2 separate regions of the Homo sapiens genome follow, and region 2 is linked to region 1. The links come from fine-mapping of genetic effects on plasma protein levels. A gene starts in region 1. The other region holds a variant in brackets. All regions are shown on one strand. Distances are from middle to middle.

What was found. PIP is the posterior inclusion probability: the model's chance that the variant is causal. Protein levels are from antibody-based Olink assays in UK Biobank. Linkage for the fine-mapping came from a reference panel and not from the study's own genotypes, which makes the PIPs less certain.
Region 2: its variant is fine-mapped to the plasma level of the LTBP2 protein (UK Biobank, PIP above 0.99).

What each region holds. Positions count from the first base shown.
Region 1 is chr14:74,610,826-74,619,103 of GRCh38, forward strand. It overlaps LTBP2 (latent transforming growth factor beta binding protein 2), which reads right to left and starts at 1,412. Exons shown (of 36, transcript NM_000428.3): 1 at 626-1,412. The coding sequence starts at 1,119. LOC101928352 (a long non-coding RNA gene) reads left to right here and starts at 2,360. Exons shown (of 2, transcript XR_944029.4): 1 at 2,360-2,470; 2 at 2,742-3,223. RefSeq lists enhancers at 1,468-2,095, 6,704-7,903 and a silencer at 1,723-2,042.
Region 2 is chr14:74,633,280-74,641,601 of GRCh38, forward strand. No RefSeq gene overlaps it. Among named protein-coding and RNA genes, the nearest start is that of LTBP2, 25 kb to the left of the region's middle. RefSeq lists a silencer at 1,767-2,061. The variant G/A (reference allele first, on the strand shown) is at 4,923.

The DNA of each region.
Region 1 (8,278 bases):
GCGCCCACTGTGTCGCAGCCTCATCAGGACACGCTTCCCGCCCAAAGTACCCAGAGCTCACGCCCACGCCCGCATCCAGCCCTCAGCGTGCGCAGGCCGACCCACGCCCCACGACACTTGTCCCGACGCACCAGCTTCGCTGCCGGCTCCCCTCCTGGAGACGCATCTACCTTCTCTCCATGGGGCCCCCGACACCTCCGCCAACCCGCGCTCTGAGCCAGCTCAACCTCCCCTGGGCGTCAAGAGCCTGGAGCGCCCACCCTCCTGCCCTCTCCCCGCTGCCTCTCAGATCCCGGCAGCGCTGCAAGAGTCTACAAGAGCTCGTTAGTTGCAGGCAGGAGGAACGCGGGCGAGTGGAGAGGCGCCTTGCGAAAGGATTTAACGTCGGGGCTCCGGGAGAGTTGGTAAGAAAGGATGAGGATGATGATCTATCTGCCTTCAACTCTTCGAAAGCGGATCAAATCTTCCAATCCCGATTTTGGAACCTCGGGGCTGTTTCCCGAAGTACTAAAGACAGAGGGACGAGGGTATGAGAGCGGCGCCCTCTCCTCTCGCCTGCACGCCCCTCCACAAATGAGCCCTGGCTCCCCTCTGTACCCTCCAAACTTCCCTCTCCCATGCTCACCCCGTGAGCCGCCCTCGCGGCGGGGTTGGGGGCGCAGCCCCAGACCGCTGTGGGGTCCCCAGGCGTGGGAGAGCCGGCGCGGCCCGGGTCCGGGGTGCTGGTTGCTGCTGGCCCAGGGGAGTGCTTCTCCGGGTCTGCGCAGGTGGCTGGACACGCCGCGACTGCTGCGCGCGGGACGGCCTCCTGGCCTCCGCCTCGGTGGGCCTCCTGGGGCTCCCCCAGCCCGGCTGGGCCCGCTCCACGGGCTGCAAGCCCGCGACAGGCGCGTCCTGCTCCCGGAACAGACTGTACACCTTGGCTGCAGCCGCTGCCGGGTAGCTGCCCCCAGGGCGCCGCAGTCGATTCGCGTCTCCACCAGCCGGCTCGTATCTCCCTACGGGGTCCCTTTGGGCATGACCCGCGCCCACGAAGAGAGCCAGGGTGAGCGGCAGGAAGCCTCTCCAGGGGTTCCGCAGGGCGCGCCCCGGGCTGCGGGCTTTGGTCCGCGGCCTCATGGCGCGGGGCGGCTGGAGAGTGGTGCGCGCGGGCACCGCGAAGAGCTTTGTGGTCGGCACGCTGGACGCCCGCGGGCTGTTCTCCCGGCCCCGCCCGGCGGCCAGCTTCTCTGAGTCTAGGGGGCCCTGAAGCGGCCGACTGGGGGCCCGGCTCTCGGCGGAACGAGGGCTGCGCGCCCCGAGCCTCGAGTCCGCGCTCCTACTCCAGCTGGGCTCGCACGGCTGCTGCACCTTCGCGCCTCCTCCCTGTGCCTGCAGCCGTCTGAAGGGGACCCGGACGGTTTTATTTTTGGAAACCTCCCCCGGCTTTTTCGTCTCTTTTATCCACACCAGGCCCCCTCCTCGGAGGGACAGCTCAGCCCCCTCATTACCGGAGAGGGAGCGAGGAATTCCAGCAACACCCACTTTGGCACCGGGAAGCCAGCGGGCGGCGAGCGGGCGGCGAGGGGGATTAACCCGTGCGGAGCAGGGGGCGGCGCGGGGCTGACCCAGGCGCTGGTCGGGCAGATGGCGCCTGCCACGACCGGGACACTGGGCCGCCTTTCTCCTGCTCTGGGCAAGTTCGAACTGCAGACCTGCCCCGAATCGTTCTCCCGCCCCTCGCCTCAGGGACCGTCTTTGGATCGGGGGACCCAGGCTGCAGCCTTGCAGGTCTGAAGGAAGCCGGGAGGGGCGCCGAGGCCCGCGTAGGGGAACAGGGCCGCCGCCCCCTCCGCTTGCGCCCTGGCCGCTGGGGGCGCCCTCCGCAGGGCCGGCCGGAGCGGGGGTGGCGCGGGGCGGGGCGCGGCGCGCGGAGCGCAGGGAGGTCCCGGGCGCGCCCCCTGGCGGAGCTGGCGGCCCTGGCGCTCCGTGGCTGCAATGCCCTGGCGCCGCCGCCTTCGCTCTGGATCTCAATCCCCTTCCACTGGCGTGAGGGTCACGCCTGAGCCTGGCGCGGTGATGGCTGCCGGTAGAAGAGGGGTCCTCTTTTTCTTTTTCTTTTTCTTTTCTTTCTTTCTTTCTTTCTTTTTTTTGAGACGGAGTTTCGCTCTTGTTGCCCAGGCTGGAGTGCAATGGTGCGATCTCAGCTCCCCGCAACCTCCGCCTCCCGGGTTCAAGCGATTCCCCTGCCTCAGCCTCCCTAGTAGCTGGGATTACAGGCATGCGCCACCAAGTCTGACTAATTTTGTATATTATTTTATTTTTTAGTACAGACGGGGTTTCTCCATGTTGGTCAGGCTGGTCTCGAACTCCCAACCTCAGGTGATCCGCCCGCCTCGGCCTCCCAAAGTGCTGGGATTAAAGGCGTGAGCCACCACGCCCGGCCAAGGGGTCCTCTTTTTCACCGAGGCAAAGACACGGAGCCTCTTGAGTAAGTCACTCAAGGAGATAGCGCATGTGAAAGAGGGGAGTGGAATCTAGGCCTCCCGCCTCTGGCTGAATCCATTCCCGGGATCCCACCCAGCCCTTCACTCTCTCGGGAATTTCCCAGAGGGGGATTCGGTGACCCCGATTGACCCAGTGTGTGCATTCACATCTTGTGTTAGCAGGGAGGCGGGCAGGGGTGTGGGAATGCTGACTGCCGCTGTCTGCGTGTCCCCAGTAATCAGCACACCATTCTCACCCATGCTCCCTCCCTACAGCCTAAAGGCTTGGATCAACAGGGCTGCCCCTGGCACATTTGTACAGCCTATTTCCCAGAGAGGCAGAGTGAAGGAGCTGGCATGTGGGCACCAGTTCACAACCTCCCACACCACACAAAAGACAAGCCCAGGTAATATCTACTGTTGAAATAAAGCCTCGACCCCTGGCCTTGGCCTACAAACCCTAGCTGGCTGCCCCCGCTCTGATTTCATCTGGCCTCTTGCTCTCCCTTACCCACCACACTGTGCTGCCTTGGCCCTCTCTCTGCTCCTTGAACAAGCCAAGTGAATGCCCCCTTCCCTCTACTGGAAGGTTCCTCTCCAGGATGTTAGAGGGTAGTTCCTCATCACTGCTCCTCTCAGATTAAATATCAGCTCCTGGAGTAGCCATCCCTGACCTCCAATCTAGAGCAGCCCTCCCTCACCCCAGTCATGACTCTAACACACCACCCTGTTTCATCTTCATAAAACAGTTGACATCATCTTGTTATTGATTTGTTTGCTCGTGTAACTGAATTTTTTAATGGGCTGAACCTAAAGAGGGACTATCCAGAAACTGCTCCACTACTACCTTCAACCATATTATGGTAAATTTCCCTTTCCCACCCTTAATGACATCTCAGGCAGAGTCCTTGGCTTGAGAGGTCATCCCTACCAGACACGAGAACTATTCTATTAATATAATTAAGACCCATTTTCAGACACAAAAAGTCTGCTCCTGTCCAGATCAAAATCTCATCCAAGTTAATCAATATCACATCCCATTTAATAGTCCTCCTCTCCCCTGTCCCTTTGCTAGAGATCCTGCAGTGGTGAGAGTGGGGTGTGGTCTGTTTTCCTGACCTCCCTTTTCTGCTGTGGCTCCTCTTTGTCAAGGCTGGGAGAGAGGTGTTAGAGGAAAAGTAGCAAAGTCTTATGTGACAGGTACCCTTGGTTGGCAGGTGCCAAGCGCTGGCTTTTTCATGGGCACATATGTGGGTTTTTGGGAGGTTCTCTACAGGACCTCCACCCTGAGTTGCCATAGCAAATTACTCTCTGGCCAACCTCTCGGAGACCCCTGCATCCTCTGTCTCTCATAGGACTGTCCCACCTATGCCAGGCAAAACAATGGTGGGTTGGCCGCTCCTCACCCTGCCCACTTCTCACCTTGCCACACAGGCCACTCCAGCGAGGCTCCACGATCAGAATTCTCCAGACAGGAAGTGCACACAAGTCTCTTCATTTATGTACGTCCTCAATTCCTAAAGACATATGTTGGGTTCTCCCATGAACTGTCTTGCTGTAGTTTAATGCACCGAGGTGCCTGTAACATCCAGCAACATAGTCAGCATCAGTGGGGGGACAGTTATAGGGACAGAGCCTCCTCTTCTTGCAGATGACTGGTTCTCTCTGGGAGCTCCCTTCATTTGGTTTGAGTTGGGGAGTTCCCTCAGGGGAAATCTCAGCCCTGCCCACAAATGCAGCAGTGTTATGCTTCAGTGACTTTCTTCAATCCCTTTCATTTGTAGACTGGAATTGAGGGATGTAGTTTGATTGCTGTTGAACCTGTTCTGCCTTTAGTAAGGTGTCTAGTACTTCTCTTCAGAATGCAAGAATATTTAGCCCTCATTGTTCTATCTTTGTGGCTTCAGCAGATATTCCAAGAGCAGAGGAAAAGTCCTATTCAACAACCTATAAAATCATTTCTTGTCTGACTTCCCAAACCACAATGACAGCTCTAAAGCAACAGATATCTTGTCTGCGTTGCTCACCACTGTTTCTGCAGAACCTAGAACAGCCAAGAAGTATGTGTGAAATGGATAGCTAACTGAATGAAGGACACAGTAATCCCATCAAGTGGGGAGGGCTGGTATCATTAGACCCATTTTAAGAGAGAGGAACTGAGTTCTGGGTGGCAGCTCCTGATCCAGGTTCATGTGCTTGCTGCCTTTGGGGCTGGCTCTAAAGATCTCCTTGAACCCTACCCCTTGCATTTGACCATGAATGCCCCTTAGTTCCCAGAATGCTGCGTTCTGTTCCTGGGATGCTGCTCCTTCACAGCTGTGGAAGCCCCAGGTCCACACTTACCTCTCCTTGCCCAGATATCCACCCACCTCTGTAGTTCTGGGCTCCCTTCCTCTCCCCGGAACCTACCCACTTCCTTCAGAAGCTCCCCTCTAGATCCCTCAAGACCCACCTCAGATCCCCGTGGGCCTCCAAAAGCCAGAAACCTTGGCATCATCTTCGTCCCTGAGCTATTTTTTCCTCCTGTGTGTCCAAGTCATTATTACTGCTCCGTCTCCTCCGTCTGCATTTCTGGAAGTCTGCCGCCCATTCATCCCTCACCCTTCGCCTCCGCCAAAACCCTCACGCAGACCAACTTTCCCTCACCATCGGGCGCCCCTTCCACTCCTCAGTGAGTACAAGTGGTCCTTGGACGTTCCCACCCTGTTCGCCTGGGGACCATAACCCAGTTCATCTACTCCAAAGACTGGCATCTTCTACCCCATCCCGGCGCCACACTCTGTCCTGCCACCTACTTACTGCCCATATCTCCCTTACCCTCTAACTGCTGGGACTGATTGCAGCTCTTCAGAATCTCCAATCCCACAAACACTTGAGTTTTGCTTTTTTTTTTTAACCTGCCAAAATCGATAGAGCCTACTTTAGTCCAAACGCCATACTAAGCATGTTACATCAATTGGCTGATTTAACCAACCAAAGGAGGCATTATGATTTCCACGCATACAAAGGAGGAAACTGAGGTTGGCAATGGCTACTGGCTTGCCCAAGATGGCACAGCTGATAAATAGCAGAGGCAGGATTCAAACCTGGATCATTTTCCACCTGAGCCCAAGCTTTTAAGGTTACACCGCCTTGCCTCCACCCCGGGCTTGTAAGCCTGGAGCCCTCTTCACAATTGAATCATGACCTTTCCAACCACCCCACCACTATCACCACCAAAGGAGCTCTAGGGCATATCCCCAAATGCCCTCTTCCCTGCCTGCCAGCCCACTGTTCATGTACCTGGAGCTCATGTACCTGGAGATGTGGAGTTATCAGAACTTTCTGCCACCCTTAATCCTCTTGGCCCAGTGAAAGAAGGGAAGCTGTTTCAGCATGGCCGCTGACTCACCGTGTGTCACTTCCCCACCCCCTGATTAAAGCCTTCTCCCTCATTAGATCGCTGCTAAGCCTACTCACCCATCTCTTGGGTCTGGAGAGGAAAATCATCTCTGGAAAACCCGGCAGAGAGAGTCTAAAGGGTTGATAAAGAGATTCCAGCAGGGAAAGGTTTGCCCAGACACATGCCCCATGCAAGGGACAGCAGTCTCCTGGACTCCCAGGGCAAACTCACTGCTTTTCCATGTCTCACTGGAATAATGTTGGCAGCCAGAGGTCTACCAGAACCTGAGCTAATTTGGTAAATAAGGACCAAAAACAAGGGCCACATTTCGGCCCCCTTTGCTGAGACCCAGACTCCTGAAAGAATTCCAGGGATTTTTCTTGCTTGGAAGTAACTGGACCTCCAGCCCTGAATTCCTCTCCCCAGGAGAGCTTGTTCCCCTGCTCAGAACAAATAACACATTTCCTGGTTAATCAGAGGGCAGAATCGCTGAAGGAAAGTTTGACTGGGCCCCCAGCCTTCCAGACGGGAGCCGCTCATGGGCTTGGATGTTCTGCTCCAGACACTGGGCAGCTGGGACCCCAGCACTGCGCAGCCTCAGCCTCCAGTTTGGAAGGTGCAGGCCGTACAGAGAGGTGCCGACTCCCTCCTGTGTGAGGTTGTTAAGGCCCGCAAAGGCTGCCAGAACCATTCCACCTTAGGTGCCATGACCTGGCGTCCCCTCAAGAATTCACAACCACCCTGCCCTGGTCTGCCGGTGCCTGTCTCCTCCAAGTGGGTATGACATGCTGGCTGGTGGTGATAGCCATGGTATGGATGTTCCTGCAAAGGTAAGGTGAGCTGGCCTGTATTTCAGAGTGTGCTGGAAAGGGCCCTCCCACAAACATGTGGTGAACATTTACGTCTTCTGTGAGCGGAGCACAGTTCTGAGCTCATTTCCGTCTTCTGTGAATGCAGCACAGTTCTGAGCTTCATTTGGCTTCTACTTTCTTATCTGAAAGTTGAGATAATGATGTTCTTTTTGCCATTTTTCTCTTCAGGACAAACTAGCTAGCCAGCCCTGTTTACCCTGTCATGGGGCTAGGGGCAGGTGTCAATTACTACTCCTCCATTTACCAACTGATATTTCATTTATTGTTTGTTTGTTTGTTTGAGACAGGGTCTCACTCTGTCACCCAGGCTGGAGTGCAGTGGCACAATCTCGGCTCACTGCAGCATCCACCTCCTGGGTTCAAGCAATCCTCCAGCTTCAGCCCCCCAAGTAGCTGGGACTGTAGGTGCACGCCACCAAGCCTGGCTAATTTGTATTTTTTGTAGAGACGGGGTTTTGCCATTTTGCCCAGGCTGGTCTTGAACCCCTGGACTCAAGTGATCCTCCCGTCTCGGCCTCCTAAAGTGTTGGGATTATAGGTGTGAGCCACCACATCCAGCCTTGGTATTTCTTGAGCACTCAGAAGGTACCAGGCACTGTGCCAAGTCATCTTATAGTCACTTCCTTGTTTAATGAGAAGCGCTATTGATGAAGGAAGTGCTATTATTTCCCCACATAGCAGATGAGGAAATGAAGGCTCGGGGAAGTAAATGACTCATCCACAGTCACAAGCCAGTAGGTGGCTGCGCTGGGATTCACTCCTGGTTTGTCTGGTCCCAGATGCTAAACCAATGCCAGCTTCCAGGGGAAGGGAGACCACCGACAGCTGCATTTTTCTCAGAGCTGGAAGCATGCACAGCTGTTTGTGGTGTGGTGGGGGTGCTAATGGCTGCATGGGACTGTGGTCACAGGTCAGCCCCCACCAAGCATCCCCCATTCTCCTCAGGCCTGTTTACCAGCTAGGGGTCCGCTCTGAGTCAGGGCGGTGAATCTGATTCGCACCCACAGAGAAGAAGGAAGGAAGTCACAGCCACACTCACCCCACCTCCATCAAGTAGTCTGCAGTTGCTGAATAGAGCTCATCTCAACTCGTAGCTTTTCTCTTTGGGAAAGAGAAATGACATACATACAATGTCTATTTAGCTCTGTGTGGTAGAGGTGTTGCCATTCCCATTTCACAAGCCCAGAGGGGTAGTCGCTTGCTCAAGGCCACACAGCTGGGAGTTGAGCCAGGATTCAACTAAAAAGTCTGAACAACTCCAAAGTCCATGCTGTTTTCCCTGCAGCACACTGCACTCACACCAGGGTGTCCTGCAATGATGGGAAATGGGCAGCTCTTTCAAATCACTTAGTTCACTTCGCTTCCCTTCATTTCCAGTCTCTGGTGCATGGGTGGGCTGATCTGAAAGCTCCGTGCCATTCACTATAAGCTGAGATGTCATTTCCTATTTACCTGCATAAATTCCTTCAGTCCCTGGCTGGGGGTGGAGGGGTGGAGGAATCTTCTAAACCCCCGGGGGAGCCTGAAGCATAACTTCTCCTCAAGCACAGTCTCTGAAG
Region 2 (8,322 bases), 22 kb after region 1:
TGCCACTGCACTCCAGCCTGGGTGACAGAGTGAGACTCTCAAAAAAAAAAAAAAAAAAAAAAAAAAGAACTCCAATTTATATACCAGCTGAGAGAGACAGGCTAGGTGGACTCCAGCCCTCCCTGCTTTGCAATCCTAGGGCCATGGGCTCAGCTCTCCCACAGCATTCAGTTCATGTAGTCAGCATGGTGGGTTTGGCTCTGTTTGCTCAACAAGACTGCAAACATGAACAGCTGTATCTCAGACACCTGACTCAGAACCTTACACACACTGGAGGTGCTTAGTTGCATGGAATTGTGATCTTACAGCTTGAGGCAGGTAACTCCAGTGGGAACAAAACTTAATGAGTATCAGGGGATAATTCCCAGAGAACCGATATAAACAGCTGCCCAACAGACCAGGTCTGGGACAAGGCAATTCCCACTGCATCCAAGTGACGGATAAGTGCAGGGGAGAAGGGGTCAGGGTTCATGGCAGGGCGTTTTAGGGAAAGTCTACTCTGCCCCCTGAAATCTCTCTCCCACCTCTTCACGAATACTTCTGATTTCTGAAACAAGATGCTAAGGCACTCGGTCAGCACTTAGAAATGCATCTGCCCAAGAGGAGATCAAAGAGAATGTTTTCATTTACTCTGAAGTATAAAGATTGGGTAAAGACCCAGCACGGTGGCTCACACCTGTAATCCCAGCACTTTGGGAGGCCAAGGCAGGTGGATCATGAAGTCAGGAGATCAAGACCATCCTGGCCAACATGGTGAAACCCATCTCTACTAAAAATACAAAAATCAGCTGGGCGTGGTGGCAGGCACCTGTAATCCCAGCTACTCGGGAGGCTGAGACAGGAGAATTGCCTGAACGCAGGAGTCAGAGGTTGCAGTGAGCTGAGATCGTGGCACTGCACTCCAGCCTGGCGACAGAGTGAGACTCCCTCCCGCCGCCCCCCCTCCCAAAAAAAAGATTGGGGATAGACTCTTTCCTAAGCGTTCTTGACAGGGGAAAAAGGTTAGGGGGCATAAAGGTTTTCAGGGTGTGGAAAGTAAAAATGGATTTTCAGGTAGAACATGAGAAAGAGAAAGGGCTGGAAAAGAAGGCTGGGATACAAGCGTATGGGATACACATCAGCTTTGGCTGCAAGTTACAGAAGCTGGCTCTGGCAAACATAAGTGGCGAAAGAGAATTTGTTGGAAAGATACATGGTACTGAAGGAGGCCTTCAACACTCAGGCCTGAGAAGGGACCAGGGCAGCTTTGGGGGTCTGGGTAGCGGGAACTCATGAGCTGTCTGGCTTTGGATGATTCTAAAGCAACTGCCTTCCATTATGGGTAATGACTCCAACTCAGATTCAAATTCCCCAGGAAAAAGTCTGACAGATCTTGGGTCTATGCTCACCCTTTGAGAATGGAGGGTTGGGAGAGTCCTGTGGCTGGCAGCCCCACCAGGAATGCATGGAATTGGGGAGTTTGAGTTTCCCAAAGGAAAGCTGAGTTTCTGTTACTCAAGGAAGGGAAGAAGTGCTGGGCATATGTGCACAGCAGATGTTCTCTACACATGGGATGTCAATTGAGAGAGGTGGGGGATGGATGGGGTGGGGGATGGGAATTTCCAGGACGCTGCAGAACCTGCCATAGGGGCCAAGGCTCCTGCCACAGCCCTGGATTGCATCTCCCTCTCCTCCTATAAAAGCAAGCTCAGGAAAAGAACATTGTTTCTGTTCTTGACAGCTCCATAGAATTGTCTCCTTAGCTTCCAGTCACGCTCAGCTCCTGCTAGAATAATTACCACCCACCTGTTCTCCATACAAGAATTCACAGCCAGTGGACACACATCTGGCCTGTAAAAGACATGCTTGGAAGTCTCCCAGGCTGCTTGGAACAGGCAGGAGACAACACAGGGTCAGCCACTAATTCAAAGGCAAGGAAACAGCTGGCCTGAGAGCTATGGTCACTGGAGCCTAAGTGGCAGCGAACTCCTCCCCTGCCAGGCAGCTCAATGGATGTGGGACAGGTGTGTCCTGAGACAAACAAACCCCCTGAGACTCAGAGGAGGTTTGAGTGCTGGGCCCTGTCCTCTTCTTCCAGCACATGGCTGTCTTCCCCACCCCCATCTGCTTCTCTAGTGGGTGGAGGGGGCTAATACCCTGCCTTTCTTGGAGTTCCTTTATTTTTCTTCCCATTACTGTTTACATCACTCCCTTCTAAACACCATGGAAATTAAGAAAAGGCCAGGTAAAGTTTTAATGGGGAGGGCCAGAAATATTTTGGTGGTGAAGGTAATTGCATCCAAGTTTTAAGGATGTGGATGCAGAATTGGAAGGGAGCAGGGCGCGGTGGCTCACGCCTGTAATCCCAACAATTTGGGAGGTCAAGGCAAGTGGATGTCTTGAGACCAGAAGTTCGAGACCAGCCTGGCCAACATGGTGAAACCCCATCTCTACTAAAAACAAAAATTAACCAGGCATGGTGGCACACACCCGTAATCCCAGCTACTCAGGAGGCTGAGGCAGGAGAATAGCATGAACCCATGAGGCAGAGGTTGCAGTGAGCCAAGATCGCACCACTGCACTCCAGCCTGGGCAACTGAGCGAGACTGTCTCAAAGAAAAAAAAAATGGAATTGGAAGGGGACTGACTGAGAGAGCCTCTAGGCCAGCGGTTTTCAACTTTTTTTTTTTTTTTTTTTTGAGCAAAACCTTTGTGCAGTGTTTCAGCATTCAACAAATATTTACTGAATGCCAACTCTGTCCCAGGTGCTGTGCTAGGGGATACAGCAGCATGCAATCCAGACCTGATTCCAGCCCTTGTGAGCATACAGTGTAGTGGAGGAGACAGACACTGGGAAAATAATTAGATAAGTAGATCAACAGTGAGCTGCAATTGAAGTAGAGCTAAGAAAGAGACGTATGCAGCTAGATGACCTAATACAGACTTGGGAGGGGATTTGGGGAAGGTATCCCCAAAGGAATGACATTGGAGCTGAGATCTGAAGGGTGCACAGAACTCAGAAAGGAGGTATGGAGGAGGACGGTCAGGAGGAGATGTCATAAGATCCTGGAGGTAGGAAGGCTCTTGTGCTGGAGGAACTCACAGGCAAGGCAAGCAGAGTAGTGTGGGATGCAGGGGCTAGGGATTCAGGGACCAGACTGCCAGGGGTTCAGGAGTCAGATCCAAGATGTGAACAGGAAACTGGGGAGCTCCTGTGGCTGGAAAGGGGCCCGCCCTTGATCTCTCCCCAAACACCCCAACACACATACTTCCCTTTGCCTTATAGCCTCTGAGGCATCTTGGAGGAACGTTGGGGCTTGTCCGAATACCGCTTGAAAACCACAAATCCAGCCCTATTGCCATTTTCAGATGTGAAGACTGAGAATCAACAATTGCCCCCTCCCAGTGCCCTCTCTGTTAACTCTGGGCAGCTAATCCAGCCTCCCTGGAGAGAGTGTGATGCGGTGACAGACTCTGAGGACACTGCAGACAGCTCAGTGTTTCAGGAATGATGGGGACAGCCTTGAGAGCCAGCCCAGGGCTCTGGCATGGGGAATGGACCCCAAAGATGAGAGGTTGGCCCAGTCTGGGGCACTCAGTCTTTTCTGCCTGTGCTGGGAGAGTCTCTGACCCTCTTAGCCCATCCCCATCATTCATCCAGAGGCGCAGGCAGGCCGCCTGCCAGGATAGCAGATCCCACTCAGCTCTGGCCTCAACATTCCTCTCCCCGCCGGGGGGAAAGGTCAAGTGTAGGATATTTTCCCAAGCCCTGGAGAACAGCAGCACCTCCTGATATCTACAGCTACTACCCAGCTTGAAGGGCAACTACCAGGGCAGACAGGCAGGACGGGAGAGCAGTCAGCTGGCCCTCTAAGCAGGGCTGCAGGGGGAAGGGACTGGGGAGGCAGGGCCTGAAATATATCAACAACTTCAGCCCCAAGAAGTAGAGTAGAGAGTGGGTGATGGGAAAAGGGCTTGCATGGCAGGGGTCTGAGGCTGAGGCTCCGTCTGCCTCAGGAAGGCTAAAACGTTCCTGCTTCAACCCAGCTGGTCCTCATTTAACTAACTCCAGGGTCTGGCCTCTCTGGAGACCCCCTGCTGGCCCGTCTGCAGCTCCTGGAGCAGAAGCCAAAAGCAGCCACCAGCTTAGAGACAGCAGCTGAACCCAGAGCCCCCCAAGCAGGAGACAGGCAGTGCAGGCATTGCAGGCCCCTTTGCAACCCTGCAAGGAGTCAAAAGCCAAGTAGGTGGGGCTGGGGGGAAGGCTTCAGAGATAAAGAAGGCAGAGGCAATTGTCTCTAAGCCAGATCAGGAGCAGCTATGGAGAGAAAAATCTCTTGGAGCCTGGAAGGTGGTTTCATCAGTCAAGGCTGTCCTAAGGCAAACTATGCAACAGTAGCCTCCCTTCTTCCCCCGTCTCCCTTCTGCCCCTCATCCAGCACACTGCTCTGTGAGCACTGGGCACTTGCCATCCTGCCATCCTCCCCCAGGGGAAGGCAGGTACAGAGGAACAAGGGAGCAGGTGCCAGAAGGCCTGAATTCAAATCTAGCTGCTCCCTATTCTAGCCGTGTGACCTTCGGCAAAGATCTGAACCTCTGAGACTCTGCTCCTGCTTCTGTAAAAATGGGATGGATAAGAGCTATGTCATAGGACTGTAGAAATGATTGAATGAGAAAATGAAGGTAAAGATCTTAGGTCTTATTGAGTTTGCCATGGATACTCCTCATGGGACAAGAGAGAGAGAAGGGGGAAGTGGGGAAGTACTGGGGACTGTTGAATGATCCAAATGGGATGCCTGATGAATGGGGCAGCTCCCAAATGTTTCAACCCTGTTTCCAAGGTAGAGGCTGGGCCAGAGAGTGGGTGGTGAGGGCCTGAGGTAGGGAAAGTTATTCTGTATTGAAAAGAAAACAGAGAGAGGAAGTCAGATCTCACGACGTGC[G/A]TCAGCCAAGAGCCTGGGCAGACAGTGTCTCCTCCAGAGGAAGGGCTGGTACTCCGGCACTCTGTTGCCCTCTGGCAGCCGCTAAGCTCCTGTTTTCCTCATTAAGCTGTCCGCAACCTGGCCCCCTTTACACTGCTGATAAGGGCCAGAAACAATTCAGAATCCCCAACAGATGGCATCTGTGGTTTTCAATGTCACCTCCCGATGGAATCAACAAGGTGGGGCTGAACTCAGGTGGACTGCAGGGAGTCAGGGCAGAAAAGCACCAACTCTGAGGGGTGGAGTCCAGGATTCGGGAACCTCACTGTGTGCCCAGCGATGTTAGGCCTCGTGGACACATAAAATGGTAAAAGCTAGTATTTGTTGGGCACACACTATTTGCCAAGCTTTGGTGCTAAGCACATAAGTTTATTATCTCATTTAATCCCCATAACAACCCTACGAAGTTGATAGCATTATTATTCCTATTTTATAGGCAGAGGAACTGAGGCAGAGTGCCTCAGGGGCTTATAATTTGTTGGGGAGTCAAGAACACAGGTTAATACCCCCAAGGGAGAAGAGAACAAAATCTGAGCTGTTTCTCACCATCCCAAGTGGCCCTGTCCTCAGTTTTGCATCACTGTCTGCCTCAGTTTCCCCAGATTTCCAGCTACCACCATGGTGGCTGAGCTCAAAAGGCAGCCTCCAATCACTGTTCTAGGGATGGACATGCTCATTTTCCCAAAGTTCAGCCAAGGCAGAATTTGTCAAAATAAGTTTATCTAGGAAACGTAGAAGAGGATGGAACAAAATAATATAAAAAGCAAATGCTCTGGGAAGAGAGCAGCTTATGAGGCAGTTTTCATGTCCCAAGATGAGGAAAATAATAATAGCTATTGGTGTGCCAAGTATCAGACACTGTGCTATGCTCTTGATTATGTTATTTTGTTTAATCCTCAAGGGGACTGAAGTATTACACAAGCATTATTGTCCTCATTTCACAAATAAGGGAACAGATGTTCAGAGAGGTTAAGCAACTTGTCCAGGTCACATAGCTTGTAAGGAATAGAGAGCTAGGAGTCAAGCTTGCCTTTGCTTTTAACAATTTAAATAAAGGAGACAGGCATGGTGAGTACAACCAGCTGACAACCAGACAGGCCTCTTGCTTCCAGGCCCCATTTAGGTCTAATGGAGAGATTTGACTGAACAACCTAGATCCTAAATGGCAGGTTTTCAGGATAGCTCTGCTGATCCTCCATCTGACAGATTTTCAGATCTTGCTCAGGAAATAATCAGAACACTTTTCCTACTGGACAAGTCTGGAAAAAACCTTGGCAAATCTGTACCCTCCAGTTCTCCTAGTCCCCATTTACACAGCCCAAAACAAAACAAACAAACAAAACCCAAAACACCCCAATAAATTAAAACCCTGTATTTGCACTTGCACTTCATTTCAAATGAAGTACACGCCTCATGGCCAGGCACAGTGGCTCAGGCCTATAATCCCAGCACTTTGGGAGGCTGAGGTGGGTGGATCACGAGGTCAGGAGTCCAAGACCAGCCTGGCCAAGATGGTGAAACCCCGTCTCTACTAAAAATACAAAAAAATGTAGCCGGGTGTGGTGGTGGGCACTTGTAATCCCAGCTACCCGGGAGGCTGAGGCAGAGAACTGCTTGAACCCAGGAGGCGGAGGTTGCAGTGAGCTGAGATTGCACCACTAAATTCCAGCCTGGGCAACAAAGTGAGACTTTGTCTCAAAAAACAAACAAAAAACCAAAACAAAACAACAACAACAACAAACAAACAGAAAAAATACCAAATTACCCTCATAACATGCTACAATTTCCACACTATTTCACTGGTTAACTGATGGTTCTTCAAGCCCAGAGATAATGTGAGTAAGCCCGTAACCCAGTGCCTGGCAAGAGATGCGTTGTTGCTGCAATTATCATTAAGAGACCTCTTCCTGTGTTCACATCAGCAAGTCATCCCTGATACCCTTGGAATAAAGCAGTATGAAATTAAGTACTAATTGAATGGTTGATATCAATAGCTATTGATAAGTAATATTTATTAAGCAGCTACTGCATGCCAGATTTTAGTCTATATAGCTTTACACGCATTATCTCTTTTAATCTTTATAACAACCCCATGAGATAGGAATTATTGTTACTCCCTCTGTTTTAAAGACAATGAAACTAAGGCCTGGAAGTACTAAATAATTTGCTTATGGTCACACAACACCCAGATGGCGGGAGTGGGATTTGAACCCAGACAGCTAAGTTCAGAACCTGCACCAGTAACCTCTTTCCTCTCCTGCCTCCCGTGATGGGTTTGACAATAGGATACAGAGGGTCAAAGAAAGAAGATGTCCTTGTGTGCTGGGGGAGTTGGGGGAAGCTTCCTGGAGGGAATGGGCTCTACTGGACTTGAAAGAAGGACAAGAGAAGTGAAGCAAAACAGACATCAATTTTAGGCTGGAAGATGATCCTGAAGTCTCATGGGACCCAAAAATGGGACATCAGGAGAGCTCTCATCTTTGGAACATGAGGGATTGCTTATCCTCTGAAGCAGTGTCATTTGGCCAACTTGTCAGTCCAAGGAAGGACTCAGAGCTTATCAGGAACCTGTGGGGTCTGCACTGGGTCTGTAGCATCAAAATAGAGGAGGAGGACAGCAACAGATCTCCTGGGAGGCCCTGGGGATAGGGCCAGGATTAGATCAACTCCCTGCCATCTCCATACTGATCACAGGATTTGCTTAGAGGAAGTTGTGTTTGGTTTGCTGTGACCATGGCAGGGTTGCCCCAGCAGGTATGGATGCAGAGGGGCTCAAGGACCCACAAGTCTGTAGGAGTTCACAGAAATCTTAGAGAGAAGCTTCAACTTCACTTAAGCCACAAAAATATTGGGGGCTGGGGAAGAATTAAATTCCAGGCTAGGTAGGCTCCCAGCTGACACCATGTTAGAGTCTTCCCGCCCACCACCCGCCAAAGGCATGTCTGGGAGGGCCAAATGAGACATACCTGGCACGTGGCAAGTGCCCTTAAAGGTTCAGCAACTGGCTGGGCGTGGTGGCTCACACCTGTAATCCCAGCACTTTGGGAGGCTGAGGCAGGCACATCACCTGAGGTTACCTGAGTTTGAGACCAGCCTGGCCAACATAATGAAACCCCGTCTTTACTAAAAATACAAAATTTAGCTGGGTGTGGTGGTGCATGCCTGTAATACCAGCTGCTTGGTGGGAGGCTGAGGTGGGAAAATCACTTGAATTCGGGAGGTAGAGGTTGCAGTGAACCGAGATTGCACCACTGCACTCCAGCCTGGGCGACAGAGCAAGACTCTGCCAAAAAAAAAAAAAAAAAAAAAAAAAAAGATTCAGCAACCTTCTCCAGGCCCCATCTTTCAGAGCTCACTTGCT